Regions from separate parts of the Homo sapiens genome. Here all the other regions are linked to region 2. The links come from fine-mapping of genetic effects on gene expression. A gene starts in region 2. Each other region holds a variant in brackets. All regions are shown on one strand. Distances are from middle to middle.

Evidence for each region. PIP is the estimated chance that this variant, and not a neighbour inherited with it, causes the effect.
Region 1: its variant is fine-mapped to the expression of RABGGTB in whole blood (INTERVAL, PIP above 0.99).
Region 3: its variant is fine-mapped to the expression of RABGGTB in whole blood (INTERVAL, PIP above 0.99).
Region 4: its variant is fine-mapped to the expression of RABGGTB in whole blood (TOPMed, PIP above 0.99).

The regions. Positions count from the first base shown.
Region 1 is chr1:75,818,628-75,827,195 of GRCh38, forward strand. MSH4 (mutS homolog 4) reads left to right here. Exons shown (of 20, transcript NM_002440.4): 7 at 3,782-3,954. Among named protein-coding and RNA genes, the nearest start is that of MSH4, 26 kb to the left of the region's middle. The variant G/GT (reference allele first, on the strand shown) is at 4,184.
Region 2 is chr1:75,781,304-75,789,444 of GRCh38, forward strand. RABGGTB (Rab geranylgeranyltransferase subunit beta) reads left to right here and starts at 4,953. Exons shown (of 9, transcript NM_004582.4): 1 at 4,953-4,971; 2 at 6,194-6,301; 3 at 7,856-8,053. The coding sequence starts at 4,969. It overlaps SNORD45C (small nucleolar RNA, C/D box 45C), which reads left to right and starts at 5,769; the gene lies at 5,769-5,846. It overlaps SNORD45A (small nucleolar RNA, C/D box 45A), which reads left to right and starts at 6,586; the gene lies at 6,586-6,669. RefSeq lists enhancers at 3,535-3,754, 4,695-4,924 and a silencer at 4,985-5,044.
Region 3 is chr1:75,804,993-75,813,560 of GRCh38, forward strand. It overlaps MSH4 (mutS homolog 4), which reads left to right. Exons shown (of 20, transcript NM_002440.4): 3 at 1,989-2,149; 4 at 5,705-5,815. Among named protein-coding and RNA genes, the nearest start is that of MSH4, 12 kb to the left of the region's middle. The variant CT/C (reference allele first, on the strand shown) is at 4,637.
Region 4 is chr1:75,885,207-75,891,816 of GRCh38, forward strand. It overlaps MSH4 (mutS homolog 4), which reads left to right. Exons shown (of 20, transcript NM_002440.4): 16 at 4,045-4,163; 17 at 5,490-5,618. Among named protein-coding and RNA genes, the nearest start is that of ASB17, 44 kb to the right of the region's middle. The variant T/C (reference allele first, on the strand shown) is at 2,403.

The DNA.
Region 1 (8,568 bases), 38 kb after region 2:
CATCTTTGCATTGCTGCCTTCTTTTTTAATCATTCAGTTCTCAACTCTACTATCAAATTCATAGGGAAGTCTTTCTTAATCAACCTAACTAAAGCAACCACCCTGGTCCTTCTCTGTATATTCCGTTTTTTTTGTTTGTTTGTTTTTTGTTTTGAGATGGAGTCTCACTCTGTTGACCAGGCTGGAGTGCAGTGGTGCAATCTTGGCTCACTGCAAGCTCTGCCTCCAGGGTTCACGCCATTCTCCTGCCTCAGCCTCCCAAGTAGCTGGGACTACAGGCACCCACCACCATGCCCAGCTAATTTTTTTTTTGTATTTTTAGTAGGGACGGGGTCTCACTGTGTTAGCCAGGACGGTCTCGATCTCCTGACCTCATGATCCACCCGCCTCGGCCTCCTAAAGTGCTGGGATTACGGGTGTAAGCCACCGTGCCCGGCCTGTTTTTGTTTTTTTTAGCTGTTTCTGTACCTAAAATTATTTTCTTGATATGATTATGTGTTTATTGTTTTTATTGTTTATTTCCCCTCGCTCTTTGTCTTGTCTTCAGTCACGGCCAGTAAACTGACAAAAGTTATTGTCAATGGCTAAGTGCGGTGGCTCATGCCTGTAATCCCAGCACCCTGGGCAGGCCAACGTGGGTGGATCACTTGAGGCCAGGAGTTTGAGACCAGCCTGGTCGCCATGGTGAAACCCTGTCTTTACCAAAAATACAAAATTTAGCCAGCATAGTGGCACACCTGTAATCCCAGCTACTCAGGAGGCTGAGGCATGAGAATCACTTGAACCCTGGAGGCAGAGGTAGCAGTGAGCCTAGATAGTGCTGCTGTACTCCAGCCTGCGCAACAGAGCAAGACTCTGTCTAAATAAATAAATAAATAAAAAGTTATTGGCAATCGCCATTAGGCTGTAAGGTCTGTGAAGACAGGAATCATGTCCGTCTTATATGCCCAGTGTTTAGCATAGAGTTTTGAATACCATAAGGGCTCAAAAAGTATTTGTTAAATATTAAAATGAATCAGATTTTTTACATGTATTATATGAAGTTGTCTAATAAATAGTCCAACTAAATGAATTTTTTTGTTTCTTTGTTTTTGTTTGTTTTAGACAGAGTCTCACTTTGTAGCCCAGGCTGGAGTGCAGTGGCGCAATCTCGGCTCACTGCAACCTCCGCCTCCCGGGTTCAAGTGATTCTTATGGCTCAGCCTCCTGAGAAGCTGGGATTACAGGTGCCTGCCACTATACCTGGCTAATTTTTGTATTTTTTTTTCAGTAGAGATGGGGTTTCACCATGTTGGCCAGGCTGGTCTTGAACTCCTAACCTCAAGTGATCCACCTGCCTCTGCCTCCCAAAGTGCTGGGAATACAGGCATGCGCCACCTTGACTGACCAGCATTCTTTAGAATAGCTCATTTCTTTATAAATCACCTAGGAATTATGAAATTGTCTTGTACTTGTCATCAGAACAAGATCATTATAGTAAATATTTATTTTAACAATATAAAAGCCCCTCCACCCTTAAGGATATATTATTAATATCTTGCTATTATGGATGGAATAAATAGACTAGAAAACTTTATATTAGTGTGAATATTGTAACTGATCTATAAAAGAAGTCATAAAGTGCAAGGAGATTCTATTCATCCTTGTTAAAGTGTAGTTCATTGACCAATAGCATATATGGGAGCTTGTTCAAAATATATCCTCATAAAATGAGTTAGGGAGGATTCCCTCTTTTTCTGTTGATTGGAATAGTTTCAGAAGGAATGGTACCAGCTCCTCCTTGTATCTCTGGTAGAATTTGGCTGTGAATCCATCTGGTCCTGGACATTTTTTGGTTGGTAAGCTATTAATTATTGCCTCAATTTCAGAGCCTGTTATTGGTCTATTCAGAGATTCAACTTCTTCCTGGTTTAGTCTTGGGAGGGTGTATGTCTCCAGGAATTTATCCATTTCTTCTAGATTTTCTAGTTTATTTGCATAGAGGTGTTTATAGTATTCTCTGATGGTAGTTTGTATTTCTGTGGGATCAGTGGTGATATCCCCTTTATCATTTTTTATTGCATCTATTTGATTCTTCTCTCTTTTCTTCTTTATTAGTCTTGCTAGTGGTCTATCAATTTTGTTTATCTTTTCAAAAAACCAGCTCCTGGATTCACAACAAAGATCAAAAGAGACAAAGAAGGCCATTACATAATGGTAAAGGGATCAATTCAACAAGAAGAGCTAACTATCCTAAATATATATGCACCCAATACAGGAGCACCCAGATTCATAAAGCAAGTACTTAGAGACCTACAAAGAGACTTAGACTCCCACACAATAATAATGGGAGACTTTAACACCCCACTGTCAACATTAGACAGATCAACGAGACAGAAAGTTAACAAGGATATCCAGGAACTGAACTCAGCTCTGCACCAAGCGGACGTAATAGACATCTACAGAACTCTCCACCCCAAATCAACAGAATATACATTCTTTTCAGCACCACACCACACCTATTCCAAAATTGACCACATAGCTGGAAGTAAAGCACTCCTCAGCAAATGTAAAAGAACAGAAATTATAACAAACTGTCTCTCAGACCACAGTGCAATCAAACTGGAACTCAGGATTAAGAAACTCACTCAAAACCGCTCAACTACATAGAAACTGAACAACCTGCTCCTGAATGACTACTGGGTACATAACGAAATGAAGGCAGAAATAAAGATGTTCTTTGAAACCAACGAGAACAAAGACACAACATACCAGAATCTCTGGGACACATTCAAAGCAGTGTGTAGAGGGAAATTTATAGCACTAAATGCCCACAAGAGAAAGCAGGAAAGATCTAAAATTGACACCCTAACATCACAATTAAAAGAACTAGAGAAGCAAGAGCAAACACATTCAAAAGCTAGCGGAATGCAAAAAATAACTAAGATCAGAGCAGAAATGAAGGAAATAGAGACACAAAAATCCCTTCAAAAAATCAAAATATATCTAAAAACTTTTTTTGCGACAAGATCTCACTCTGTCTCCACACTGGAATACAGTGGTGCAAGTATGGTTCACTGCAGCCTTGACCTCCTGGGCTCAAGCAATCCTCCCATCTCAGCCTCCTGACTAACTGGGACTAAAGGCCTGTGCCACCCTGTCCAGTTAATTTTTAGTTTTTTGTAGACTCGGGGTCTCACTATGTTGTCCATGCTGGTCTTGAACTCCCGAGTTCAAGTATTCCTCCTGCCTTGGCCTCCCAGAGTGTTGTTGAGATTATAGGTGTGAGCAACCGTGCGTGGCCCAAAATGTAGAACCTCATGCTTTTTATTAGACCTACTGAATTAGAAATTTATGTAATTGTATGCACAGTAAAGTTTAAGAATCATTGCTGGCCAGGCGCGGTGGCTCACGCCTGTAATCCCAGCACTTTGGGAGGCCAAGGCAGGCGGATCACAAGGTCAGGAGATGGAGACCATCCTGGCTAACAAGGTGAAACCCCGTCTCTACTAAAAATACAAAAATACAAAAAATTAGCTGGGCGTGGTGGCGGGCGCCTGTAGTCCCAGCTACTCAGGAAGCTGAGGCAGGAGAATGGCGTGAACCTTGGAGGCGGAGCTTACAGTGAGCCGAGATCGCGCCACTGTACTCCATACTGGGAGAGAGAGCGAGACTCTGTTTCAAAAAAAAAAAAAAAAAAGAATCATTGCTGTAGATTATAGGATTATTTAATTACAAAGTGAAATGAAATTTTCTTGCGTTTTTCTTTGTATTCTTACTGACATTTCTTGTGTTTTGAAAGGAATAATCACACTCTCTTTGGTGTTCTAAATTATACTAAGACTCCTGGAGGGAGTAGACGACTTCGTTCTAATATATTAGAGCCTCTAGTTGATATTGAAACCATTAACATGAGATTAGATTGTGTTCAAGAACTACTTCAAGATGAGGAACTATTTTTTGGACTTCAATCAGGTAAATCAATATTATTTAATATTATAAATACAAATTATTGAAAAATACAGTTGGCTTAGTTATTTTTCCATGTTTCTGAAAGACAAGTAGTGAAGGTGTTAATTCTTGTATTCTTTTATGGAAAATATTTTCCTGAAATTTTCTACTGAGTCCTGTAGTAAATAATTTCAGGGGTACATTATGTAATGTATTTTGATTTCCTGTATGCTTTTCTTTTCCATTTTTTTCT[G/GT]TTTTTTTTTGTTGTTGTTTTTGTTGTTGTTGTTCATAGATACTTTACATTCTTTTTCTCCATGGTAATCCTCAAAGATGGGAAGATTTGTTCAGACTACGTAATTATCAACGGATAGGATATATTAGTTTCCTAGGCTGCTCTAAAAACTAGTACCTACTCCATGGTTTAAAACAACAGAAAGTTTTTGTCTTACAGTTCTGGAAGCTAGAAACTTAAAATAAGGTGTCAGAAAAGCCATGCTCCCTCTGAAACCTATAGGGGAGAATCCTTTGCCCCTTTCTAGCTTTTGGTGGTCGCTGTCAGTCCATGATGGGCCTTGGCTCACAGGTTTGTCATTGCAATCTCTGCTTCTATTGTCATATGGTTTTCTCCCTGCGTGTCTTCACATTGTCGTCTTATAAAGACACTAGTCGTATTGTATTAAGACCTACCTTAATAACCTCACATTAGCTTGATTACATTTGCAAAGATGCAATTTCCAAATAAGGTCACACTAACAGATACCCGGAGTTAAGACTTCACAGTATCATTTGGGGGTCACAATTCAACCCATAACATGGGATAAGAAAATTGCCCTTGCCTCAGGGTCTGTTTCTGGAGAACTCACCCTAACACAGTCACCAACAGGCATATTGCTAATTTTTTTTTTCTTTACTTTAAATTCTGGAATACATGTGCTGAAATGTGCTGAACATGCAGGTTTGTCACATAGGTATACATGTGCCATGGTAGTTTGCTGCACCTATCAACCCATCATCTAGGTTTTAAGCCTTGCATGCATTGGGGATTTGTCCTAATGCTCTCCCTCCCCTTTCCCTCCACCCACTGACAGGCCCCAGTGTGTGATGTTCCCCTCCCTGTGCCCATGTGTTCTCATTGTTCAACTCCCACTTATGAGTGAAAACATGCAGTGTTTGGTTTTCTGTTCCTGCATTAGTTTGCTGAGGATGACGGTTCCCAGCTTCATCCATGTCCCTGCAGAGGTCATGAACTCATTCTTTTTAATGGCTGCATAGTATTCCATGGTGTATATGTGCCACATTTTCTTTATCCAGTCTATCATTGATGGGCATTTGGGTTGGTTCCAAGCCTTTGCTATTGTAAATAGTGCTGCAGTAAACATACATGTGCATGTGTCTTTATAGTAGAAAGATTTATAATTTTTTTGGTATATACTCAGTAATGGGATTGCTGGGTCAAATGATATTTCTGGTTCTAGATCCTTGAGGAATCGCCACACTGTCTTCCACAATGGTTGAACTAATTTAGACTCCCACCGACAGTGTAAAGTGTTCCTATTTCTCCACATCCTCTCCAGCATCTGTTGTTTCCTTACTTTTTAATGATCGACATTCTAACTGGCTTGAGCTGGTATCTCATTGTGGTTTTGATTTGCATTTCTCTAATGACCAGTGATGATGAGCTTTTTTTCATATGTTTGATGGCCGCACAAATGTCTTCTTTTGAGAAGTGTCTGTTCATATCCTCTGCCCACTTTTTGATGGGGTTGTTTTTTTCTTGTAAATGTTTTTAAGTTCCTTGTGGATTCTGGATTTTAGAGCTTTGTCAGATGGGTAGATTGTAAAAATTTTCTCCCATTCTGTAGGTTGCCTTTTCACTCTGATGATAGTTTCTTTTGCTGAGCAGAAGCGCTTTAGTTTAATTGATCCCACTTGTCAATTTTGGCTTTTGTTGCCATTGCTTTTGGTGTTGTAGTCATGAAGTCTTTGCCTATGCCTATATCCTGAATGGTATTGCCTAGGTTTTCTTCTAGGGTTTGTATGGTTTTAGGTCTTACATTTAAGTCTTTAATCCATCTTGAGTTAATTTTTGTATAAGGTGTAAGGAAGGGATCCAGTTTCAGCTTTCTGCATATGTCTAGCCAGTTTTCCTAGCACCGTTTATTAAACAGGGAATCCTTTCCCCATTGCTTGCTTTTGTTAGGTTTGTCAAACATATGTGGTGTTATTTCTCAGGTCTCTGTTCTGTTCCATTGGTCTATATATCTGTTTTGGTACCAGTACCATACCGTTTTAGTTACTGTAGCCTTGTAGTAGTTTGAAGTCAGGTAGCATAATACCTTCAGCTTTGTTTTTTTTTTTTTTTGCTTAGGATTGTTTTGGCTATATGATCTCTTTTTTCATTCCATATGAAATTTAAAGTATTTTTTTTTCTAGTTCTGTGAAGAAAGTCAATGGTAGCTAAATGGGAATAACATTGAATCTATAAATTACTTTGGGCAGTATGGCCATTTTCACAATATTGATTCCTCCTATCTGTGAGCATGGAATGTTTTTCCATTTGTTTGTGTCCTCTCTTATTTCCTTGAGTTCTTTTTGTAGTTCTCATTGAAGAGGTCCTTCACTTCCCTTGTAAGTTGTATTCCTAGGTGTTTTATTTTCTTCGTAGCGGTTGTGAATGGGAGTTCACTCATGATTTGGCTCTCTGCTTGTCTATTATTGGTGTATAGGAATGCTTGTGATTTTTGCACATTAATTTTGTGTCCTGAGATTTTGCTGAAGTTGTTTATCAGTTTAAGGAGTTTTTGGGCTGAGACGATGGGGTTTTCTAAATATATAATCATGTCATCTGCAAACAGAGACAATTTGACTTTCTCTCTTCCTATATGAATACCCTTTATTTCTTTCTCTTGCCTGATTGCCCTGGCCAGAACTTCCAATACTATGTTGAATAGGAGTGGTGAGAAAGGACATCCTTGTCTTGTGCCGGTTTTCAAAGGGAATGCTTCCAGTTTTTGCCCATTCAATATGATATTGGCTGTGGGTTTGTCATAAATAGCTCTTACTATTTTGAGATATGTTCCATCAATACCTAGTTTATTGACAGTTTTTTAGTATGAAGGGTGTTGAATTTTATCGAAGGCCTTTTCTGCATGTATTGAGATAATCATGTGGTTTTTGTCATTGGTTCTGTTTATGTGACAGATTACATTTAGTGATTTGCATATGTTGAACTAGCCTTCCATCCCAGGGATAAAGCCAACTTGATTGTGGTGGATAAGCTTTTTGATGTGCTGCTGGATTCGGTTTGCCAGTATTTTACTGAGGATTTTCACATCAATGTTCATCAGGGATATTGGCCTGAAATTTTCTTTTTTTGTTGTGTCTGTACCAGGTTTTGGAATCAGGATGATACTGCCCTCATAAAATGAGTTAGAGAGGAGTCCCTCTTATTCTATTGTTTGAAATAGTTTCAAAAGGAATGGTACCAGCTCCTCCTTGTACCTCTGGTAGAATTCGGCTGTGAATCCATCTGGTCCTGAGCTTTTTTTGGTTGGTGGGCTATTAATTACTCCCTCAATTTCAGAACTTGTTATTGGTCTAGTCACAGATTCAACTTCTTCCTGGTTTAGTCTTGGGAGGGTGTATGTGTCCAGGAATTTATCCATTTCTTCTAGATTTTCTAGTTTATTTGTGTAGAGGTGTTTATAGTATTCTCTGATGTTAGTTTGTATTTCTGTGGGATCAGTGGTGATATCCCCTTTATCATTTCTTATTGTGTCTATTTGATTCTTCTCCCTTTTCTTCTTTATTAGTCTGCATAGTGGTCTATTTTGTTAATCTTTTCAAAAAACCAGCTCCCCGGTTCATGGAGTTTTCGAAGGGTTTTTCATGTCTCTGTCTCCTTCAGTTCTGCTCTGATCTTAGTTATTTCTTGTCTTCTTCTAGCTTTTGAATTTGTTTGCTCTTGCTTCTCTAATTCTTTTAATTGTGATGTTAGGGTGTCGATTTGAGATCTTTTCCACTCTCTGATGTGGGCATTTAGTGCTATAAATTTCCCTCTTAACCCTGGTTTAGCTGTGTCCCAGAGATTCTGGTACATTGTCTCTTTGTTTTCATTGGTTTCAAAGTACTTCTTTGTTTCTGACTTAATTTTGTTATTTACCCAGTAGTCATTCAGGAGGAGGTTGTTTACTTTCCATGCAGTTGTGCAGTTTTGAGTGAGTTTCTTAATCCTGAGTTCTAATTTGATTGCACTGTGGTCTGAGAGACTGTTATGAATTCCATTCTGTTCCATTTGCTGAAGAGTGTTTTACTTACAATTATGTGGTCGATTTTAGAATAAGTGCTATGTGGTGCTGAGAAGAATGTATATTCTGTTGATTTGGGGTAGAGAGTTCTATAGATGTCTATTAGGTCCACTTGGTTCAGAGCTGGGTTCAAGTCTTGAATATCCTTGTTAATTTTCTGTCTCATTATTGTCAGATTCGCCAAGGTTGAAACAAAAGGAAAAAATGTTAAGGGAAGCCAGAGAGAAAGGTCAGGTTATTTACAAAGGGAAGCCCATGAGACTAACAGCGGATCTCTGTGCAGAAACCCTACAAGCAAGAAGAGAGTGGGGGCCAATATTCAATATTCTTA
Region 2 (8,141 bases):
TGATGAACATGGATGAAAAATCCTCAATAAAATACTGGCAAACCGAATCCAGCAACACATCAAAAAGGTTATCCACCACGATCTAATAGGCTTTATCCCTGGGATGCAAGTCTTGAATCAATAAATGTAATCCATCACATAAACAGAACCAAGGACATAAACTCATGATTATCTCAATAGATGCAGAAAAGGCCTTCGGCAAAATTCAACAGCCCTTCATGCTAAAAACTCTCAATAAACTAGGTATTGATGGAATGTATCTCAAAATAATAAGAGCTATCTATGACAAACCCACAGCCAATATCATACTGAATGGGCAAAAACTGGAAGCATTCCCTTTGAGAACTGGCACAAGACAGGGATGCCATCACTCACCACTCCTATTTAACATAGCGTTGGAAGTTCTGGCCAGGGCAATCAGGCAGGAGAAGGACATAAAGGGTATTCAATTAGGAAAAGAGGAAGTCAAATTGTCCCTGTTTGCAGATGACATGATTGTATATTTAGAAAACCCCATCGTCTCAGCCCAAAATCTCCTTAAGCTGATAAGCAACTTCAGCAAAGTCTCAGGATACAAAATCAATGTGCAAAAATCACAAGCATTCCTAAACACCAATAACAGACAAACAGAGAGCCAACTTATGAGTGAACTCCCATTCACAATTGCTTCAAAGAGAATAAAATACCTAGAATCCAACTTACAAGGGATGTGAAGGACCTCTTCAAGGAGAACCACAAACCACTGCTCAATGAAATAAAAGAGGATACAAACAAATGGAAGAACATTCCATGCTCATGGGTAGGAAGAATCAATATCATGAAAATGGCCATACTGCCCAAGGTAATTTATAGATTCAATGCCATCCCCATCAAGCTACTAATGACTTTCTTCACAGAACTGGAAAAAACTACTTTAAAGTTCATATGGAACCAAAAAAGAGCCCACATTGCCAAGTCAATCTTGAGCCAAAAGAACAAAGCTGCAGGCATCATGCTACCTGACTTCAAACTATACTACAAGGCTACGGTAACCAAAACAGCATGGTACTGGTACCAAAACAGAAATATAGACCAATGGAACAGAACAGAGCCCTCAGAAATAATGCCACATATCTACAACTATCTGATCTTTGACAAACCTGACAAAAACAAGCAATGGGGAAAGGATTCCCTATTTAATAAATGGTGCTAGGAAAACTGGCTAGATATATGTAGAAAGCTGAAAGTGGATCCCTTCCTTACACCTTATACAAAAATGAATTCAAGATGGATTAAAGACTTAAATGTTAGACCTAAAACCATAAAAACCCTAGAAGAAAACCTAGGTAATACTATTCAGGACATAGGCATGGGCAAGGACTTCATGTCTAAAACACCAAAAGCAATGGCAGCAAAAGCCAAAATTGACAAATGGGATCTAATTAAACTCAAGAGCTTCTGCACAGCAAAAGAAACTACCATCACAGTGAACAGGCAACCTACAGAATGGGACAAAATTTTTGCAACCTACTCGACAAAATGTTTGCAACCTACTCATCTGACAAAGGGCTAATATCCAGAATCTACAATGAACTCAAACAAATTTACAAGAAAAAAACAACCCCATCAAAAAGTGGGCAAAGGATATGAACAGACACTTCTCAAAAGAAGACATTTATGCAGCCAAAAAACACATGAAAAAATGCTCATCATCACTGGCCATCAGAGAAATGCAAATCAAAACCATAACGAGATACCATCTCACACCAGTTAGAATGGCAATCATTAAAAAGTCAGGAAACAACAGGTGCTGGAGAGGATGTGGAGAAATAGGAACACTTTTACTGTTGGTGGGACTGTAAACTAGTTCAACCATTGTGGAAGTCAGTGTGGCAATTCCTCAGGGATCTAGAACTAGAAATACCATTTGACCCAGGCATCCTATTACTAGGTATATACACAAAGGATTATAAATCATGATGGTATAAAGACACATGCACACGTATGTTTATTGCGGCACTATTCACAATAGCAAAGACTTGGAACCAACCCAAATGTCCAACAATGATAGACTGGATTAAGAAAATGTGGCACATATACACCATGGAATACTATGCAGCCATAAGAAAGGATGAGTTCATGTCCTTTGTAGGGACATGGATGAAGCTGGAAACCATCATTCTGAGCAAACTATCGCAAGGACAAAAAACCAAACACCCCATGTTCTCACTCATAGGTGGGAATTGAACAATGAGAACACAGGGACACACGAAGGGGAACATCACACACCGGGGACGGTTGTGGGGTCGGGGGAAGGGGGATGGATAGCATTAGGTGATATACCTAATGCTAAATGACGAGTTAATGGGTGCAGCACACCAACATGGCACATGTATACATATGTAACAAACCTGCACGTTGTGCACATGTACCGTAAAACTTAAATAATAATAAAAAAAATCAAAATAAAATAGAAGTTGAAGAAAAGGAAGAAAAACAAAGTCAGGAAACAACAGAAGCTGGATAAGATGTGGAGAAATAGGAACACTTTTACATTGTTGGTGGGAGTGTAAAGTAGTTCAACCACTGTGGAAGACAGTGTTGTGATTCCTCAAGGATCTAGAACTAGAAATAGCATTTGACCCAGTGATCCCATTACGGGGTATATACCCAAAGATTATAAACACACATGCACACGTATGTTTATTGGGCACTATTCACAATAGCAAAGACTTGGATCCAACTCAAATGTCATCAACGATAGAGTGGATTAAGAAAATGTGGCACATATACACCATGGAATACTATGCAACCATAAAAAAGGATGAGTTCATGTCCTTTGTGGGGTCATGGATGAAGCTGGAAACCATTATTCTGAGCAAAGTATCACAAGGATAGAAAACCAAACACCGCATATTCTCACTCATAGGTGGGAATTGAAGAATGAGAATACCTGGACACAGGGCAGGGAACATCACACACAGGGGCCTGTCATGGTGTTGGGGGAGGGGGGAAGGATAGCATTAGGAGAAATACCTAATTTAAATGATGAGTTAATGGGTGCAGCAATCCAACCTGGCACATGTATATCCATGTAACAAACCTACACGTTGTACACATGTACCCTAGAACTTACAGTATAATTTTTTTAAAAAAAGTAACTTCCAATATTTTTACTATTAGCACTCTCCGAAGAAGTGTTTGTGGTGGCGGTGGTGGTGGTGGGGAGGGTGGCCTGTGTGTGTGGCGAGGAGAGGGGGCGGGTACAGGGCTGGACCTTGAGATAGATAAGGCAAACAGGAAGGAAATGTGAACATTTCATTAATATTCATTTAAAAAATATTCATTGAACACTTACTACGTGTAAGCAGGCACTCTACTAATTAACAGCCATTTCAGATTTTCAGAGTGCAAAGGGCCTCAAGAACAAATGATTTATTTTTTTGAGACATGGTCTCGTTCTGTCTCACACCCTGCAGTGCAGTGGCATTATCACCGCTCACTGTAGCCTCCACCCCCTGCCCCACAGCTCAAGTAATTCTCTCACCTCAGCTTCCCCAGTAGCTGAAACCACAGGCTTGGGCAACCACGTCTGGCTCATATTTTTATTATTTGTAGAGACGGGGGTCTTGCAACATTGCCCAGGCTGGTCTGGATCTCCTGGAACCGCCTTTGCAAAATTATAACTGAGGAAATTATGGCAGTGAAAGAAATCAGACCTAACGGATTCCATCTTGCTTCTAACTTTTGTTTTTGAGACTAGTCTCGCTCTGTCGCCCAGGGTGGAGTGCAGTGGCGTGATCTCTGCTCACTGCAAGCTCCGCCTCCCGGGTTTAAGCCATTCTCCTGCCTCAACCTCAGGAGTAGATGGGACTACAGGCGCCCACCCCCACGCCCGGCTAATTTTTTGTATTTGTAGTAGAGACGGGGTTTTAGCCAGGATGGTCTCGATCCCCTGACCTCGTGATCCGCCCGCCTTGGCCTCCCAAAGTGCTGGGATTACAGGCGTGAGCCACCGGCCGCTTCTAACTTTTAAGCTGTCCTTCTTCATTCCTGAGCCTAGGCTGAACCAATTTAGGGAGGAATTCAGTTTATGGTTTGACTCTGAAACAAAATTGATAATATCCCTTTCCCAAAAAGACCGCTTTTTTGCCTGGGGACCAGTCTGCCTTTGCAGAACCAACAGATTAGCTACAAGATTAGAAATTACAGTTTAGAGGTCATGCAGCCTCTGGCTCCAAGTTTCTGAACCTCCCCAAATTGCTCCTGGGGATAACATCACTATTGTAAAACCTAAGATAAGTTCTTGAGATATTTTGCAGACCCTGCTCTCCATGGATCAGTTGAAACCACCCAGATTGGTAATTTGGCTCAACCAGTTCTGCCATCCTACCCAGGAACAGAAAACAGCAAGAAAAACTCACGTCTACCCACTATGAGTCCATCTCCAACCTGACCCATCAGCACTCCCTACTTCCCAAGCCCCTAATCGCCGAATTATCTTTAAAAACTCTGAATACTGCTTGGGGAGACTCCATTGCAAGTCCCCTGTCTTGATAAATGGGCTATCGGTCAGCAGCAGGCAAAGTGAACCACAATATTGGGTGGTTACACTCCTAGGATCAAGCAATCCTGCTGTCCGGCTTCCCAAAGTGCTGGGATTACAGGCGTAAGCCACCGCGTCCAGCTAGAACAAATGATTTCTTAAAAGCAACTCAGATATTTAAATATTATTTAAAACTGTTTCTAGACAAATCGGAGTGACTATGGGACAAGCATATGGTCGCAGGACTTTGGACGCAGGCAGTGAGGACACCTATGAGCGATCAGTGGGGTCCTACGGCAGCCGTGGAACTGCTCTGCCTTGCAGGCGAAAGTGTGGTCAGCTATATCGGAGCGCGATGGGGGCCTGAGAGGCGCATCTGCGCAGGCGCCCGGCTCCTAAGTCTACCCAGGAACTGACCCTGCTCTCTCCTTTCCCTGTTAGACATGGTAAGTGTGAGTTTAGCGCTGCTGTCCGGATGGGTTGGTAGCAGACAGGGTGGAGTAGGGTTAAGCACACTGGTCACCTTAGGATTGGTTTCCTGGTGCTGGAGAATGGTTAGGACACAGGCCTTGGAAGGTTTTTTGAGTGTGAAATATTACTCAGCGTTTTCTGCAGACCTCGCGGGCAATGCCGCTTCTAATTTTATCCAGGCCTTCTTCTGTAGGGAGGGCCTGTTAAGAGTTGAGCAGCCCGATTTCTGAACCCCTCTAAAAAGCTGTGGCTGATTGGTGGCTTTTTTTTTTCTTGGAGAGGGGGTGTCAAAGATTTCTTTAAAATCGTTAGTGATGTGGTCTCGCTTTAAGATTTTTAATGGGATCAGAAGAAAATTCGGTACTTAATCACTTCCGGTAATCTTCATGACCTGTTATAGTGACTGCAGTGTACTCTCAATGAGGAAGATATAGATACGAAAAGAACTAGAGCCGCATCACATGGGGACTTCTGCAAATACAGAGACTCGGATTAAAGGTGGAGAAGATGGAGCTAAAGGAACTGCTTATTTAATACATTTGAACAACTTTTGGGGTACTTAGAAGGTGCTTTGAAACCTGCATTTGATTAAGCAAGAATTCGCTTGCAAGTTAAGGGTTAGATTTTTTTATTTTTTAAAAATATGCTTTCTGCCACATGTAAACCGTAAGTTGTCCTGAAATGATAAGCTTTGATATTCTATGGTGTTTATTTTTTACTTATCTTTTTGAATGAAAAGTGAACAACAAGAAATGCTGGTGGTAATTTTTTGGGTCAATGATGAGTTGGCATGTATTCTGAATCTAAAGTTGATTATTACTACTTTAGCTCTAGAATTACTCTGAGACCTGAAAATTACCTGAATCGTGACTAAGACGAAGCCTGAATGATTTAAGTTCTTTTTTGTTGGATACAATTTGTTGTTGTTGTTGTTGTTTTGGTTTTGTTTTTGAGTCGGTCTCCGGTCGCCCAGGATGGAGTGCAGTGACACAACCTCAGTTCACTGCAGCCTTAATTTCCCTGGCTCAAGCGATCTTCTACCTCAGCCTCCCTAGTTAGTTACAATTTTTAAATGGAACGTTTTCCTATTACAAGATGAAATCAAGTGAAAATTGAGATGTATGTTGAATCTATGCTGTGGGGCAGAAGAACGTTGTAGAGGTAAACATTGATGAGATTACCACTTTATTTTGAAAGGGCACTCCACAGAAGGATGTTATTATCAAGTCAGATGCACCGGACACTTTGTTATTGGAGAAACATGCAGATTATATCGCATCCTATGGCTCAAAGAAAGATGATTATGTATGTATAATTTTTTTATGTTGGAAAGTTTATTTTAAAGAAGTGTGACAGTCATAAGCAGTGAGACAGTATTTATGTCTTAAAATGGCATCCAACTCCATGCAGAGAACTGAGGATGTGCTGTGCCTTTGAACTTCAGTTAAGTGTGCTTTGGACGTCTGAGGCTGTGGGCTTATTAGAATCTCAGTTTTTACCTATACTGAGAGGGCTTGCCAGACAAAGTAGATGAGGGTTTGAGGTACAAAACGGGTTTCTCTTTTTGTAGTTAGGGGTAATACTTTCAAGGTCAATGATGTGTTGGCATGTATTATCTGAATCTATTGCTGATGTGTAATAACACTTTAGCTCTAGAATTACTCTGAGACCTTGAAAAAGTTTTACCTTAAATTTTTAAATTTCGAGGAAAACTCTGGGACAATCTTAGCAAAAAGTAGTAAACAACTTAGTTAAGAGTAAATGTTTTTCCCTGTAGTATCCAAACTCAGTTGTCTTAGTCTACCGATTTGTGGGATATATGGTATGTATTAATTTTTTACTTAAGTGTTAGGTTCCCATAACCTTGAAAATACTCTATTAGCAATCATGGAGTTAAGGCCATATGGATGGGGCTGGACTCGTTTCTGCCTTTATCTGCTATCTATCTTTATGCCCTGAATTTGGGTTAGTAGCAAACTAAGATGCACCACCTGTTAAAAAAACTTCTTTTTTTCCTTTTGAGAGCTATAACCTCACTTTGTTGCCCAGACTGGAGGACAGCGGTGCGATCTGGGCTCACTGCAGCCTCCATCTCCTGGGTTTAAGTGAGCCACCTGAATAGCTGGGATTACAGGCACATTCCACCATGCCCAGCTAGTTTTTGTATTTTTCGTAGAGACTGAGTTTTGCTATGTTGGCCAGAGTGGTCTCAAACTCCTGACCTCAAGTGATCTGCCTGCCCCAGCTTTCCAAAGTGCTGGGATTACAGGCAGGAGCCACCACCCAGCCACAAAACTTCTTAAAATATAATGCATTGTTGAGTGTGGGAAAAATTTGTTTCTGGAATCCTAATACTAATTTTCATGTATCATTGATTAGCCACTGTTTTATCTGGGCTTAAACATCTTTGGCATGTTTAGGGCATTTTGATTTTTCATGTAGTTATATAATTTACTAATAGATAATAGGTTTTGTACAGAGTCCACATTAAAATAGATGTCTGATAAATATGGTATAGGTACTCGGAAAGAAATACTCTCCCTGAACTTCACTGATGAAAAAGGTAGATGTTTTTCTGTCTCTGGCTCATGGGAGAAACTAAAGCACTGTTTGTATTGTCAGCCATAGATTAACTAATCCTGTGCTTCTCAGATAATTGTTTTTTTCTGATAATAGTTGTGTCTGAAGATGGCTTCTAACATTGAGCAGCACAGATTTTAAACTCACTACTGATCAGTGCTGTTAAGGTCAGGAGAGGTAAAAATAGCAGCATGGCTAATGAGTTACCTTTGTGTTTAATCTCTTTATAACTTGTTACCAGTTCAAATGACAGATTTAAGAAATTGTGTATTATTTTAGGAATACTGTATGTCTGAGTATTTGAGAATGAGTGGCATCTATTGGGGTCTGACAGTAATGGATCTCATGGGACAACTTCATCGCATGAATAGAGAAGAGATTCTGGCATTTATTAAGTCTTGCCAACATGAATGTGGTGGAATAAGTGCTAGTATCGGACATGATCCTCATCTTTTATACACTCTTAGTGCTGTCCAGGTAAATACTAATCAAAATTGCAACGATCTTGATAGTATGTTCTCTTACTTCAGAGTTGGAAATTGAAACTGTATCAGGATTTGGTCAA
Region 3 (8,568 bases), 24 kb after region 2:
AATTTTGTATTTTTAGTAGAGACAGGGTTTTACCATATTGGCCAGGCTGGTCTTGAACTCCTAACCTCATGATCCGCCCACCTTGGCCTCCTAAAGTGCTGGGATTACAGGTGTGAGCCACCGCACCCAGCCCTGACCTGTTTATTTTTAAGTAGAAAATAAATACCAAGTTCCAGTGGAAATTCAATAGACATATAAAAGACATCTCTAAGGTTCTAAAAATACATTTATGCTGTTATCTCTCTGTTGTAAATAACATAATAATGAGCATCCTAATACATAAAGCTTTTTTCTGAGTCTCTTATTATTTCCTTAAAACACACCCTTAGAAGTCAAATTACTGAAACATAGGGAAATTACCTTTTTTATTTTTTTTAATTACCATTTTTTGTTTTTTTTTTTTTTTGGTTTTTGAGACGAAGCCTTGTTCTATTGCCCAGGCTGGAGTGCAGTGGCACCATCTCGGCTCATTGCAACATCCACTTCCTGGGTTCAAGTGATTCTCCTGCCTCGGCCTCCCGAGTAGCTGGGATTACAGGCATGCATCACCATGCTCAGCCAATTTTTTTTTTTTAGTAGAGATGGGGTTTCGCCATGTTGGCCAGGCTGGTCTCGAACTCCTGGCCACAAGTGATCCTCCCACCTTAGCCTCACAAAGTGCTAGGATTACAGTTATGAGCCACTGCGCCTGGCCAAAATTACCAGTTTTTAAGAATCTCAGATATATTGCCAAGTTTCTTTTGAGAACTGGACTAATTTTTAATTCCATCAATAGTGTATAAGGTAAGCCAATCTTACTCTATCCTCATCATTACTAACTTCTAAAATTTATTATGATTATTGGCTAATTTAGTAATCATCATCATCATCATAAGATTATTATTAAATTAGCCAATAATCATTATCATAATAAATTGTATTGGTTAATTTATTGGTTATTATGGTATGCTCTTATTAACAATGTGTAAGAGTCCACTTCAACATTTGATATTGTTAGACTCAATATTTTCCAACCTAACAGTTGTAAAATACTACCTGAGTTTTTTATTTTCTGAGTTTGCATTTTCCTGATTACTAGTGAGATTATCTTTTTCTGTACTTTTGGGCTATATATCTTTAATAATGGTCTGTGAAATTAATGTTCATGTCTTTTACTCATTTTTCTTTAGGCTTATTTTTCTGGATTTGTAGCAATACTTTATATATTCTGAGTAATAAATATTTTGATGACTTTTCTGTTTGGTTTTTTTTTTTTTTTTTTTTTTTTTTTTTTGAGAAGGAGTCTCGCTCTGTAGCCCAGGCTAGAGTGCAGTGGCGCGATCCCGGCTCACTGCAAGCTCCGCCTCCCGGGTTCACGCCATTCTCCTGCCTCAGCCTCTCGAGTAGCTGGGACCACAGGCACCTGCCACCACGCCTGGCTAATTTTTTGTATTTTTAGTAGACATGGGGTTTCACCGTGTTAGCCAGGATGGTCTCGATTTCCTGGCCTTGTGATCCGCCCACCTCGGCCTCCCAAAGTGCTGGGATTACAGGCATGAGCCACCGCGCCCGGCCTTTTCTGTTAGTTTCTATGTTTCTAGTTCTTTTTTAACTCTGATGGGTCATTATGTCTAGCTGTGTGCCAATATCACACCATCTTTAGCTTTATAATAAGTCTTGATATTTTGTAGGACAGCCTTGCCACCTGTACCCTCCACAAGCCACCTTACTCTTCTTTAGAGGAGTCTTGATTCTTCTTGGCCCTTTGCTCTTCCATGTAAATTTTGGGCCAATTTTTCAAGCTCCACCAAAAAACATATTGAGGTTTTGATTGAAATTATAGTTGTACTGAACCAATAGATCCTTTAGGGAGAATTGAAATAAGAGGCTAACTGATATCTACAGATTGCATTATTTTGTCCTCTTGATTAAGAATTTCCTAGTTTTTTTTAAAAAAAGAAATGATTATTATCAATGTTTATATCTTTTCTTTATTTAAAAATTTACAGCTTCATCCTCATCTGCGATTTCTGCACACTCCCCATCAGTTATTGTAGCTGTTGTAGAAGGGAGAGGACTTGCCAGAGGTGAAATAGGAATGGCAAGTATTGATTTAAAAAACCCCCAAATTATACTATCCCAGTTTGCAGACAACACAACATATGCAAAGGTAAGTATTAATAATTCTAGAAAATGGTTGCTCTGTTAGGCAGTATCTAGAGTTTAAAGTCAGTGCCTTCCCAATTTGTTTACTTTTTGGTAGAATAAAGGTTATTCATTATTATGTCAATGTAAATACTCTGAATTAAAATAAAACTGTGTTATATCTGATTTTTATTTTTTAAATATATTTTGTCCAAAAAGAGTGTGTTTTACTGTTATTTAAATAAGCTATTGTTAGTATTAGTTTCTAAAATTAACATCTTCAAATTAATAATTTCTGGATTTATTCCAAAGGTAATATATGTGATAATGTGGTACTGATCATAATCCTTAAAGACACAATCCCAAATGCCATAATCCCGATGTTCAAATCTTGAAAGATCAAAATCCTTAATGTTGAAATCCTGAAAGCTTAATTCTAGGGAAGGGATTAATGCGTTTTTGGTTGTACACAAGATAGTTGCATCATGTTAGATGCATCATATTAGGCAATACTACTACCTTATTATTTTATTTGGAAATTAGGTATGGTTTAAGGAGATGCATAGGGGTGCCAAATTGGCAAGGGATAGACTTGTGGATTTAAGTATAGGTGACAACTTGACTGTATTAAAAAAATACCTAGTAAAGCATTATTTGGGCTGTGTCTGTGAGGTTGCTTCCAGAGGAGATGAGTGGGTGAGTCTGAGTGGACTAGGCGGTGAAAATCTGCCCTTAGTGTTGGTGGGCACCTTGCAGTTGACCAGGGCCCAGAGAGAGCAAATACAGAAATTGCATTTGTCTCTCTCTAAGAGCTGGGACAGACTCTTCTGCTGCTGCCTTGGACATCAGAAATTTGACTCCACAGAAGTTCGTTATCACAACATTGACTGTGTGTAAGCATTGTGCATATACATTAAAATGTTGAAATTTTTTTGATAAATGAAGACATGTCCTTTTTGTACATCATTTATTTGTGAAAGATAAAATTTATTTCTTGAAATCTTAGCTCTTCAGGCAACTGTGTATGTGGTGACCCATAGAAGTTTTTGATCTATCTCATCAAAAGACTTAGGTTGTCCCTGGTGGTATTTCAGATGACCATATTTATGAAGCTTGGTGCAGACAATTACCAACCATAGTGATATGCATTTATACATTTTGCTTTTTGACTAATTTCTAATTTTTGACTAATTTTTTTGTGAATACAATTTGTCTGCTCATAACTGTTATTATACCTGTGTGACTGTCATTAGTACACTTAAGTGTTCATGCTTGCAAAAAAGTTATTATTGCCTATTTTATTGTGTAAAGTGGCCTATGAAGTGTACTGTTCTGTTTTTATATGTTTCTCAAATAAATCCCCTTTTAAAAATGCAAATCAATGTCTTAAAATTGTTTTTGAAGTTATTTCTTCCAGAACTGTGTTTTTGGGATTTTGGTCTTTTGGTATTGGGGTTCTGGGGATTTTTAGACTTTAAGGATTTTGCTCTTTTGGGATTTTGACATTCAGGATTATGGCATTTGAGATTGTGTCTTTCAGGATTATGGCCCAAACCCATGATAATGCTAACTCCAGAGAGTTATTTCTACTGAACTGTATTTGAATTTTATTTTTTCAGAGGTAAAGAAAACTAGTATCTTAGATCAGTCAGAATTTAGCCTCTTAATTTCTTGCCTTCACTTCTTATTTTGCCTTCATTTTATATCACTCATCATTCATTTGGGCCACTCGCCTATTGTCATGGGAATTTGCATGATCTATCAGGTAGAGATAGTTTACTCCTAATTTCTATGTTATTTAACTCAATTATTATTTTATTTTATTTTTAAAAGGTCTTGCTCTTTTGCCTAGGCTGAAGTGCAGTAGCATGATCGTGACTCACTGCAGCCTCCCACCTCAGCCTCTTGAGTAGCAGGGACCACAGGCATGCACCACCACATAGAGCTGATTTTTAAATTTTTTTTGTATAGATGGGGTCTTGCTCTGTTACCCAAGCTAGTCTCAAATTCCTTAGACTCGAGTGATCCTGCCCCCTCAGAAGTTGAATTGCCCCTCGGGTTCCCAAAGTGCTAGAATTATAGGCATGAGCCATCGAGCCTAGTTAATTATTATTTTGAAGATGTGATCTAGTGTTTTATTTCAAGTGTTTCATTATTTTTTAATTCTCTTCCTTTAGTCCCTCTTTATGGTCCTCCAGTGTGTAGACTTCCCTTTCCTAATAATTAATTTTTTATTATACCTAACAACCTTAATGATACTAGTATTGCATACTAACTTCATCTGTAGGTATTTTATACATTTTTACAATTTCAAAAGAGTAGGAAAAAAGTTTTTAAAAAAAAGGAATGTTAGACAAATTGAGAATTTCTGTGTTTGGAATAGTTCTAAGAAATACACCTTATTTTATGAAAAGCTAAGCCATAAGGCAGATGTTTCTCATCTGTGTTTATGTACTTTTCAACAGTTAATCTGTACCAGTGTGGCCATACTGATTGTATTGCCATAGTTACC[CT/C]TTTTTTTTTTTTTTTTTTTTGAGACAATGTCTCACTTTGTTGCCCAGGTTGCCAGGTTGGAGTGCAGTGGCACAATCTTGACTCACTGCGACCTCTGCCTTCCGGGTTCAAGCAATTCTCCTGCCTCAGCCTGCCTCAGCCTCCCAAGTAGCTGGGATTACATGTGCACACCACCAAGCCTGGCTAATTTTTGTATTTTTAGTAGAGACAGGGTTTCACCATGTTGGCCAAGCTGGTTGTGAACTCCTGACCTCAAGTGATGCAGTCGCCTTGGCCTCCCAAAGTGCTGAGATTACAGGCGTGAGCCACCTCCCCTGGCCCATAGTTACCCTTATTGGATGTATTTACATTTTTCACAGAGTATTTGGATAAAATACTAAGTATAAGAATTTATTTAAAAACAATTTTATTTTGGGAATATATATTTGATAAGTTCAAATTAATTTTTGAACTTAAGGCTGTTAGAAACTATTGTGAGTAAAATATAGCCTATTTTATGACAGTATTTTATGTTAGTAGTTATATAGGAGATATATGTTCAATATACTACCATTAGAAATATATATACATATATATTTTATTGTTATTGGTGGTGGTGGTGTTTGTTTGTCTGTTTTTGAGACAGATTTTCCCTCTGCCACCTAGACTGGCGTGCAAAGGTGCCTGGTGTGATCTCAGCTCACTGCAACCTTTGCCCCCTGGGCTCAAACTATTCTCATGCCTCAGCCTCCTGAGTAGCTGGGATTACAGGCATGCACCACCATGCTCGGGTAATTTTTGTATTTTTTTTTTTTTTTTTTTTTTAGTAGAGACAGGGTTTCACCATGTTGGCCAGGTGGGTCTCGAACTCCTGGCCTCAAGTGATCTGCCCACCTCAGCCTCCCAAAGTGCTGGGATTACAGGTGTGAACCCACCTGGCTAGAAACATATTTTAATTGAAATATATCATTAGGACAGTTATAATTTTGTGTATCTATGAATTAATTTTAAATACTTATCTCAGAAAAATATGAAACTTTTATTTCCTAAGCTTTATTTAAGAAATTGTTTATTCAAATGATTTCAGGTGATCACTAAACTTAAAATTTTATCACCTTTGGAAATAATAATGTCAAATACTGCTTGTGCTGTGGGGAATTCCACCAAGTTGTTCACTCTGATCACAGAAAATTTCAAGGTAAGTGATGTTTACTGTTTGTAACATTCAAGATCTAATCACTTATTTATTTATTTGTTATTTATTATTTATTTATTTTTTTGAGACAGAGTTTCACTCTGTCACCCAGGCTGGAGTGAAAGGGCGTGATCTCGGCTTACTGCAACCTCCAGCTCCCGAGTTCGAGTGATTCTCCTGCCTCAGCCTCCCAAGTAGCTGGGACTACAGGCGTGTGTTACCACACCCAGCTAATTTTTGTATTTTTAGTAGAAATGGGGTTTCACCATGTTGGCCAGGCTAGTTTCAAACTCCTGACCTCAAGTGATCGATCTGCCTTGGCCTCCCAAAGTGCTGGGATTACAGGCATGAGTGAGTCACTGTGCCCGGCCCTAATCACTTTATTTAAAATTTACTTAATAATATCATTATAAAGAACAATAATTTTAGTAACTTTATATTTAGTGTCCTAAAGTAGTCACTAAATACAAATCCTAATCTAAGGGACTGTTAATACAGATAATAAAAATGATAGGGAATTTACTTATTTGATTTGGCACCCTGATCTACTTTAAACAAAAGAAAACATGTTTTAGGTAATAAGGAAGTTTCTCAGATATACAAGGGGCAGACCCATAGAGAAAGCATAAGTTTCCCTTACATGTATTTTCCTGGAAACTACTTATTGTGCTGTCAGACTGGTTGAAATTGAAGTTCTTAGGGGATAGCAGCTATCAGCAAGTACCTTTTTCTATAGGGAATTTAATTTGTATTACAGAATTGTTTCAGCTTCCCCTGATAACATGTACTGCCTTCCAGTTAGCCTGCTACTCTAGTGTCTATCTGTAGGACTGTAGTGGGTAAGCACTGTGGAACCTTATCCAACAAGAATGGGGGCTGTGGCTCCAAACCAAGTAGACAGCATTGCAGTTGGAATAATTCCTTAGGAATGCAAATTATTTTCAGAATATACTATATTTTGTTATGTTTTTAGACTTATCTTTTACTTTAACACATTTGGAACCAAGCTGAGGTTTGGAGTCCAATGAGTTCCTTTCCTGTTCCTAATATATTCAGCATCTGCAGTCATATAAGATTTGTCATGGTGCTCTTGGATTTCCTGTATAGATGAGCTGCCTTTGACTCATTGCCAGAGATAGTCCCTATTCTAAATCTATTGTCTCTATTAGACGAATCACTTTATCTGTTCTTTTTCATTTATAACTTTATACTTCTTTTCATTATGCCTATTTATCCATACCTTTCCAACTTTCATGTTTTGTTGTTGTTGTTGTTGTTGTGATTAGGCCTTATAATTCTTTTGGTTATAAATAAGAGAAATCTAATGTAAACTACCTTATGCAAAAAAGGAAATGTATTGGCTTATGTAACTGGGAAGTCAATGGTTGAATAGATCCTGTTCCTACTGTCAAAGGTAAACAAAGCCAAACACTAGCTAAATATTTTAATCAGTAATATGCTGTTGCAACAGAGAAAAGAGTCCAGTGTGGACTGAATTGAACTTCGGTTTATACTGGGCATTTTAATGGGAGACTAAGGGAATAAGGAGGAGTAAGCACAAGCTCAGTAGAGTCAGGGAAGTGAAAAATTATTATAACAAAAAGTAAGACCAGGTGCGGTGGCTCATGCCTGTAATCCCAGCACTTTCAGAGGCCGAGGAGGGTGGATCACAAGGTCAGGAGATCGAGACCATCCTGGCTAACATGGTGAAACCCCATCTCTACTAAAAATACAAAAAAATTAGCCAGGCCTGGTGGCACGCGCCTGTAGTCCCAGCTACTCGGGAAGCTGAGGCAGGAGAATCGCTTGAACCTGGGAGGCAGAGGTTGCAGCGAGCCGAGATTGTGCCATTGCACTGCAGCCTGGGCAACAGAGCAAGACTCCATCTCAAAAGAACAACAACAAAAAATCTGGGTTTGCTAACTGGCACTTACCAAAGTTAGGCTCCTATTCTCCCACAGAGGATAGGAGACAGGGACCCTATTTTTAGGTGTTAAGTGGAATAAACAGTAAATTTTTTTTGGCAGCCTGAGTTTTCTTAGGCTGGCACTTTATGAGAGGCTAAGGTCATCCTAGGGATGTGGCTTTGAGCAGTTAGAAACAATGTTAGTGTTTCGTTCAAGTCTTTATAGGCCAGTTGGAGGCTTAGTTGAGAAGAAGGCTTATAGTAGCCCAGGTAGAGTTTGGTCAAAGAGAGCATCTTTATCACTACTCTCATTCCCCATATCATCCTTTTTCTACTGCAGATAGTTTACTTCTATGAGATTTAAGAAGATGATTGCTAATGGCTCAAGGCTGATGTCATCTCAGCTTAGCTAACCCAGAGGGAAAATAATTTCTTTATTCCAGTGTCCATGTATGAATTCCAGGGAAGGATGCTGACTGATTCCGCTTTGTTCAGTTTCTCACACGTTAGAGTAATCACTATTTCTGGGGGTAGATACACTATAATTGACTAATCCTTTTGCTGTGAGACACAGAATACTATGATAGCTAGGCCTTCCAGAATCACATGGAATGGGGGATAAGTCCTCCAAAGGCAAAAACAACATAATTTCAGTGCATTTGAATAGTAAGGCAGTATAGCATAGTGCTTAAGAATAGAGAAGTCAGATTGTCCCGGTTTCAGATCTTGACTCTACGTGACCTACTGCAAGACACTTAACTTCTTGGAGCTTCAGTTTTTTTCATCAGTAAATTAGGGACAATAGGAGATACCAACCTCCTAGAAAATTGATATTTTATATAGGGTAATC
Region 4 (6,610 bases), 100 kb after region 2:
ATATATACCTTCTATATATAATATAAATATATATATTATATACATTATATATATAAAATATGTATATAATACCGTATATATACTACGTAGTATATATAGACTCACACTGGGGGTGTGTGTGTGTGTGTGTGTGTGTATATATATATATATAAAGGTATGTAACATTTTGGTTTTCACATATACTTTCACCCTTTTCCTCCACCTCCCACCTCAGTTGGTATCCTGAGTGTGTATATACATATATATATATATATGTATATATACACACACACACACAAACACTGGGTACATATATATATACATATAACCTTCACATTTATTTCACATTTATATAATGAAGGTAATATATATGTATATGTAAAGTATTATATGTATTATATGTATATGTATTATATATTACATATGTATTATATATAATATATATTATATATTATTATATATTATATATTATATATTATTATTTATATAATGTATTATATATTATATAGTATATATAGTATATATAATGTATTATATATTATATAGTATATATAGTATATATAATGTATTATATATAGTATATATAATGTATTATATAGTATATATACTATATAATGTATTACATATTATGTATAGTATATGTAATGTATTATATATTATATAGTATATGTAATGTATTATATGTATTATATAGTATATATTATATATGATGTATTATTTAGTATATATAATATATATGATGTATTATATAACATATATAATATATATGATGTATTATATAGCATGTATAGTATATATGATGTATTATATAGCATGTATAGTATATATGATGTATTATATATAGCATGTATAGTATATATGATGTATTATATATAGCATGTATAGTATATATGATGTATTATATATAGCATGTATAGTATATATGATGTATTATATATAGCATGTATAGTATATATGATGTATTATATATAGCATGTATAGTATATATGATGTATTATATATAGCATGTATAGTATATATGATGTATTATATATAGCATGTATAGTATATATGATGTATTATATATAGCATGTATAGTATATATGATGTATTATATATAGCATGTATAGTATATATGATGTATTATATATAGCATGTATAGTATATATGATGTATTATATATTATATATGGTATATATGATGTATTATATATTATATATGGTATATATGATGTATTATATATTATATATGGTATATATGATGTATTATATATTATATATAATATATATGATGTATTATATATTATATATAATATATATGATGTATTATATATGATGTATTATATATAATATATATGATGTATTATATATATTATTATCTATTATATACGATGTATTATATGCAAGTTATTATGTATAATATATAATGTATTATATATTATATAATGTATAATATATAAATATATAAATATATAATTATGTATAAATATAGAAATATATACATTATACATTATATACATTATAATGTATAATATATAAATATATTATATATAAATGTATACATTATATATAAATATATTATATACATTATATATAAAATATGTATATAGTTATTATACCTTATATATACTAAACAGTATATATATATACTCACACTGGTACATATATATATATATTATATATATATATATATTACCTTCACATTTATTTCACATTTATTCTCCTAGAAACTCCATAAGAAAGTTGTATTTGAAATCTAAGTTCTGCTCTCTGAGGGCAGGACCCATGTCTGTTTATTTACCCTAACACATAGAAGGGCTTCAATAAATAGGTATTGAATTTCTATAAAATGAGGAAAGTCAGGCTCAAAGACTTGCCCAAGATCACCCAGTATAAATCCTTTACCTTAGTCTTCCCCACTTGCCCCATTATGCCGTTTGACTCTGTGTCTCCACCCAAATCTCACCTTGAATTGTAATCCCACGTGTCAAGGGAGGGACCTGGTCGGAGGTGATTAGATCATGGGGGGCGGTTTCCCCAATGTTGTTCTTGTGATAGTGAATTCTCACAAGATCTGATGGTTTAAAAGTGTTTGGCAGTTCCCACCTTGCTCTCTCCCTCTCCTGCTCGCATATGAGGACGGTCCTTGCTTTCTATTTGCCTTCCGTCATGATTGTAAGTTTCCTGAAGCCTCCCCAGCCATGCAGAATTGTGAGTTAATTAAACCTCTTTTGTTTATAAATTACTCAGTCTCAGGGATTTTATAGCAGGGTGAAGCAGCAGACTAATACACCCCAGTAGCTAATATTGAGTGTTCACTATGCCCATCACTGCTGTATATACCTTGCATGATAATACGCATTTCACGTTTATCTGCCTGGAAACTGGAAGTGTTATCTGGTTAACACTCATAAAAATATGATAAAGATTATTAACTCCATGTTA[T/C]AGATGAGTAAGTCAAAGTATTGAGAAGGAATTTGTCCAAGATTATATAGTTTGTAAGAGGCAGCACAAGGATTCAAACCCATGCAGCCTGACAAATAATCTTTGCCCTAAATTAGCAAATTGTCCCCACCCTTCTCCAGAATCTTAAGAAGGTAGCAGGTCATTCCTGTTTTCTTGGAAATGGACAGTTTGTTTATGTTTTTGTTTTTGTTTTTAGCCAGAAAGTTCTGATTCAAATTCTGGCTCTATCACTTCATTATTTATTTTCAGCAAACATTTATCATGAGATTATGTGTCAGAAGCCACTCTAGGTTCATAATTCATCCTTTTAGGAAAACAAGCAAAAAAATAGAGTAGAATGGGGGAGATACATCTTTCTAGTTTTTATAATTTATTGGGTTATTTTGAAAATTAGGAAGAGTGGATATAAAATATCTAGTATGTCGAATGGTATAGGTGCCGTTATTATAATTACTACTGTTATGATTATTACTTTTATTTTCATTAATATTAATCTGACTTTTGGTTTCTTTTCTTGCTACTCCTTATTCCTCAGAGTTAAGCCCTATTCTTTACCCTTTTTTTGTTTTTAATCTTGGAGTAATCTGGCTTTGGTTTTTTTGCTGCTATTATTTCACCATTTTACCTATACAGAATTCTGTATATGTGGTACGTTTCCCTTTCAACTATTTGTATATTTTATCTTCTTATAATGTTAGAATGCATTTTAGATTTTATTCTATATTGAGACTGGTGCATTAATCAGATTGATTTGTTTTCAAAAAACGAATATTTTAGATGAGTTAGCACAATAACTTCTTGGGCAGAAACAGTCTTGTGGGTGAAAATTCACCTTTTTTTTCTTTTTATTAAATGTTTTGCTTTTATTTTGCTTCTGAATGTTTCTCCATGTTTGTAATCACAGATATTTCTTTATATCTTTTTATAATGATTTTATTAACTTCAGCTTTATAGGCATTTTCTTCAGATTTTCATATTTCTTTTTTTAATTTATTTTATTTTTGACATAATAATTGCACGCATTTAAGAGATACATAGTGATGTTTGAATACATACCATGTATAATGATTAGATCAGTGTAACTGGCATATTATATTCATAAGCTTTATAAGCATTCCCTTCATATTTTAATATTTTGAATGTTATCATTCAAGTAAGTTATTTAAAATTTTTATTGTGTTTATAACTGTCTGTTTGTTATGTACTTGAACATTTACTGCCTTATTTGAACTTCTGGATAACTTTGTACAGTAGGTAGGGCAACTTTTTTTTTTTTTTTTTTTGAGACGGAGTCTCATTCTGTCGCCCAGGCTGGAATGCAGTGGCGCGATCTCGGCTCACTGCAGGCTCCGCCTCCCGGGTTCACGCCATTCTCCTGCCTCAGCCTCCCGAGTAGTTGGGACCACAGTTTCCCCGCAACACGCCCGGCTAGGACTGGGAAAGTTTAAGTGCTGTCTAAGCTTTTATAATAAGGGATAGAACTGGGGTCATGTCTTCTAATGCCATATCTAGTGTTCTTTCTACCATATAATCCTTGTAAATAATCTGAGAAGTACAAAATGTTATTAGTAATTATATTTTATAAACACATTTCAGTTTATCTTGACCTTATATTTTACAGGATCATATGTTCCAGCAGAATATTCTTCCTTTAGAATTGCTAAACAGATTTTTACAAGAATTAGTACTGATGATGATATCGAAACAAATTCATCAACATTTATGAAAGAAATGAAAGAGGTACCCAAACAAAACTTTTCTTATGTTAAAAACATTAAATTCTCTCACTAATGGCCAGTTATCACATAAAATATTTTTATACTAAAATATGCAGATGTTGCTTATACCCTTTTCTAAGAGCCAGAGGGCAGTCAAAGACAGCCTCCTAATTTCTGTTTTATGTGGAAATGGAAGACAATGTTTAAGTGAAAATATAATTTTAAGAGAAAGAGCTAGCATTATTAAGTAATAAAAGTGTGCCTAAATGTTTTTATAGGAAATACGTAAAAGACTTCAGAAAATGATAACTGGTTCAGTACCATTTTGCATAGTATTTATTGTTCTTCATAGGCTTGATTTTAAAACAAAAGATTACTGTGTTAGAAGGGTTTCAAAAATCATCCTCTTCTTTGTTCTCATAGAATTTTCACTCCCTGTACCAAAGTATCACCTATTTCTGATTGAGCAAACGTCAAGTAGGCTTTAGAACTGAAGGAATTAAGTGTAACTCTTGGGATATCTGTATTATGAATTTAGGATCACTGTTTAGTTGGAAAATTTTCTTCAAGTAGATAGGTGGTGACTAAAGTTATCATTTGTCCCATGATTTATATAATTATTTATTGTGTATTGAATATCTATAATAGATCGTAGCAATATATTAGGCACTTAAGGTATATTTTTAAATGGTCCTAGCACTCAAAAAGCTTAGTCTCATAGAAAGGTAAAATGTCCATCAAAGTTACTATTGTGTCATAATATAATAAAGATAAAATTCTATTTTTGAGAAAGAGGTTAATAATCTTCAGTGGAAAAGAGCACTTCTGTCAATTTAAGTCTTAGTCTCCATTGGTCATGGATTTAAATTTATTTGTTAAACCAAGAATCAAGACTTAGGTATTTTTTCTTAAATTTTTCTTTACTTCATCTTTACAGGGTATAGAGTAATACTTAAATAAATTTGAGAGATGGTTTTGGATACTTTATAGCAGTAATTGATTAGTCATTTGTGGAGAAGAAAATGACCATCTTTGTGCTTAGTTTAAACATTTAATTTATTGCATTTTTTCACTGTATCTAAAGCATCAATATTTTAGATAATGGTTATTTACTCTGTTGTCTCATATACATATGCATATGTCTATTTATGTACACATCAGCTATTCTACTGGAATTATTAGTCATGAGATTTTTAGAAAAGAAAACTATTATTTTCTGCTCAGCAGGATGTCTCTAAGAATACATTTCAGATGAACTTATAAAGAGACTGGGTTTCTCCTCATTTTTTCCTGTGATATTGACAGCTGTTTGGTTACAATGAATAAATATTAAAATTATATATTTCAGATAGCATATATTCTACATAATGCTAATGACAAATCGCTCATATTAATTGATGAACTTGGCAGAGGTACTAATACGGAAGAAGGTATTGGCATTTGTTATGCTGTTTGTGAATATCTACTGAGCTTAAAGGTATTCTTTTATTTTAAGTATATTGATTTTGAGTCCTTCTTTATGTATCCTTTTATTATTATTGAATTTTATGGACACCCACAAATAGCTTTTAAAACAATTTAGATAGTAAACACATATCATCGCATTTATATTTTTGTTCCTTCATTTCCAATGAAAGTGGGAATCATTAGTTTGATAACCATGATATAGATAAGGAAAAGATGAAATCAAGAAATTCAAATAATGCAAAATTAGTCAGTTGGCTTTAATTTCATCAAATTCAGTAGCAAAATATGAAGGTCTTTCAGTAATTGCCTCCATGTGCAATGATGTTGACTATGATGTTACAACAGGAAGGAAAGCACTAGGCAACTCAGGTAACTTTACAGAAAATCTATTTTACCTACCTAAGTAAATTTTATTCCTTTAAAGAAAGTAGTTTTTCACAAATCAACTATGTAAAACATTGATTTTTGCTCTATTAAATTAATTTATAAAATATCTTTTTAAATGGTCACTCACAATATATACAGATATGAACAAAACTGAAATAAAAATACTTTTTCTTATTTAAGATACCTTAAAATGTCCCTAAGATGAAGTTATTTACCTTAAATGAAAGTCCATAATGATTTATTTATTTTTATTATATTTATTTATTTTTTGAGACAGGGTCTCACTCTGTTGCCCATGCTGGAGTGCAGTGGCGCAATCTTGGCTCACTGCAACTTCCACCTTTCAGGCTCCAGCAATCCTCCTGCCGCAGCCTCCTGAGTAGCTGGGACTGCAGGCATGCACCATCATGCTTAGCTAATTTTTGTATTTTTAGCTGTGACGGGGTTTCACCATGTTACCCAGGCTGGTCTTGAACTCCTGGGCTCAAGTGATCCACTCACTTCAGCCTCCCAAAGTGCTGTGATTGCAGGCTGAGCCGTCATGCCCAGCTCGTAATGATTTATTATATAGAATGAGAAAAATCTATTTTATGCTTAAAAGTATGTGATAAATCA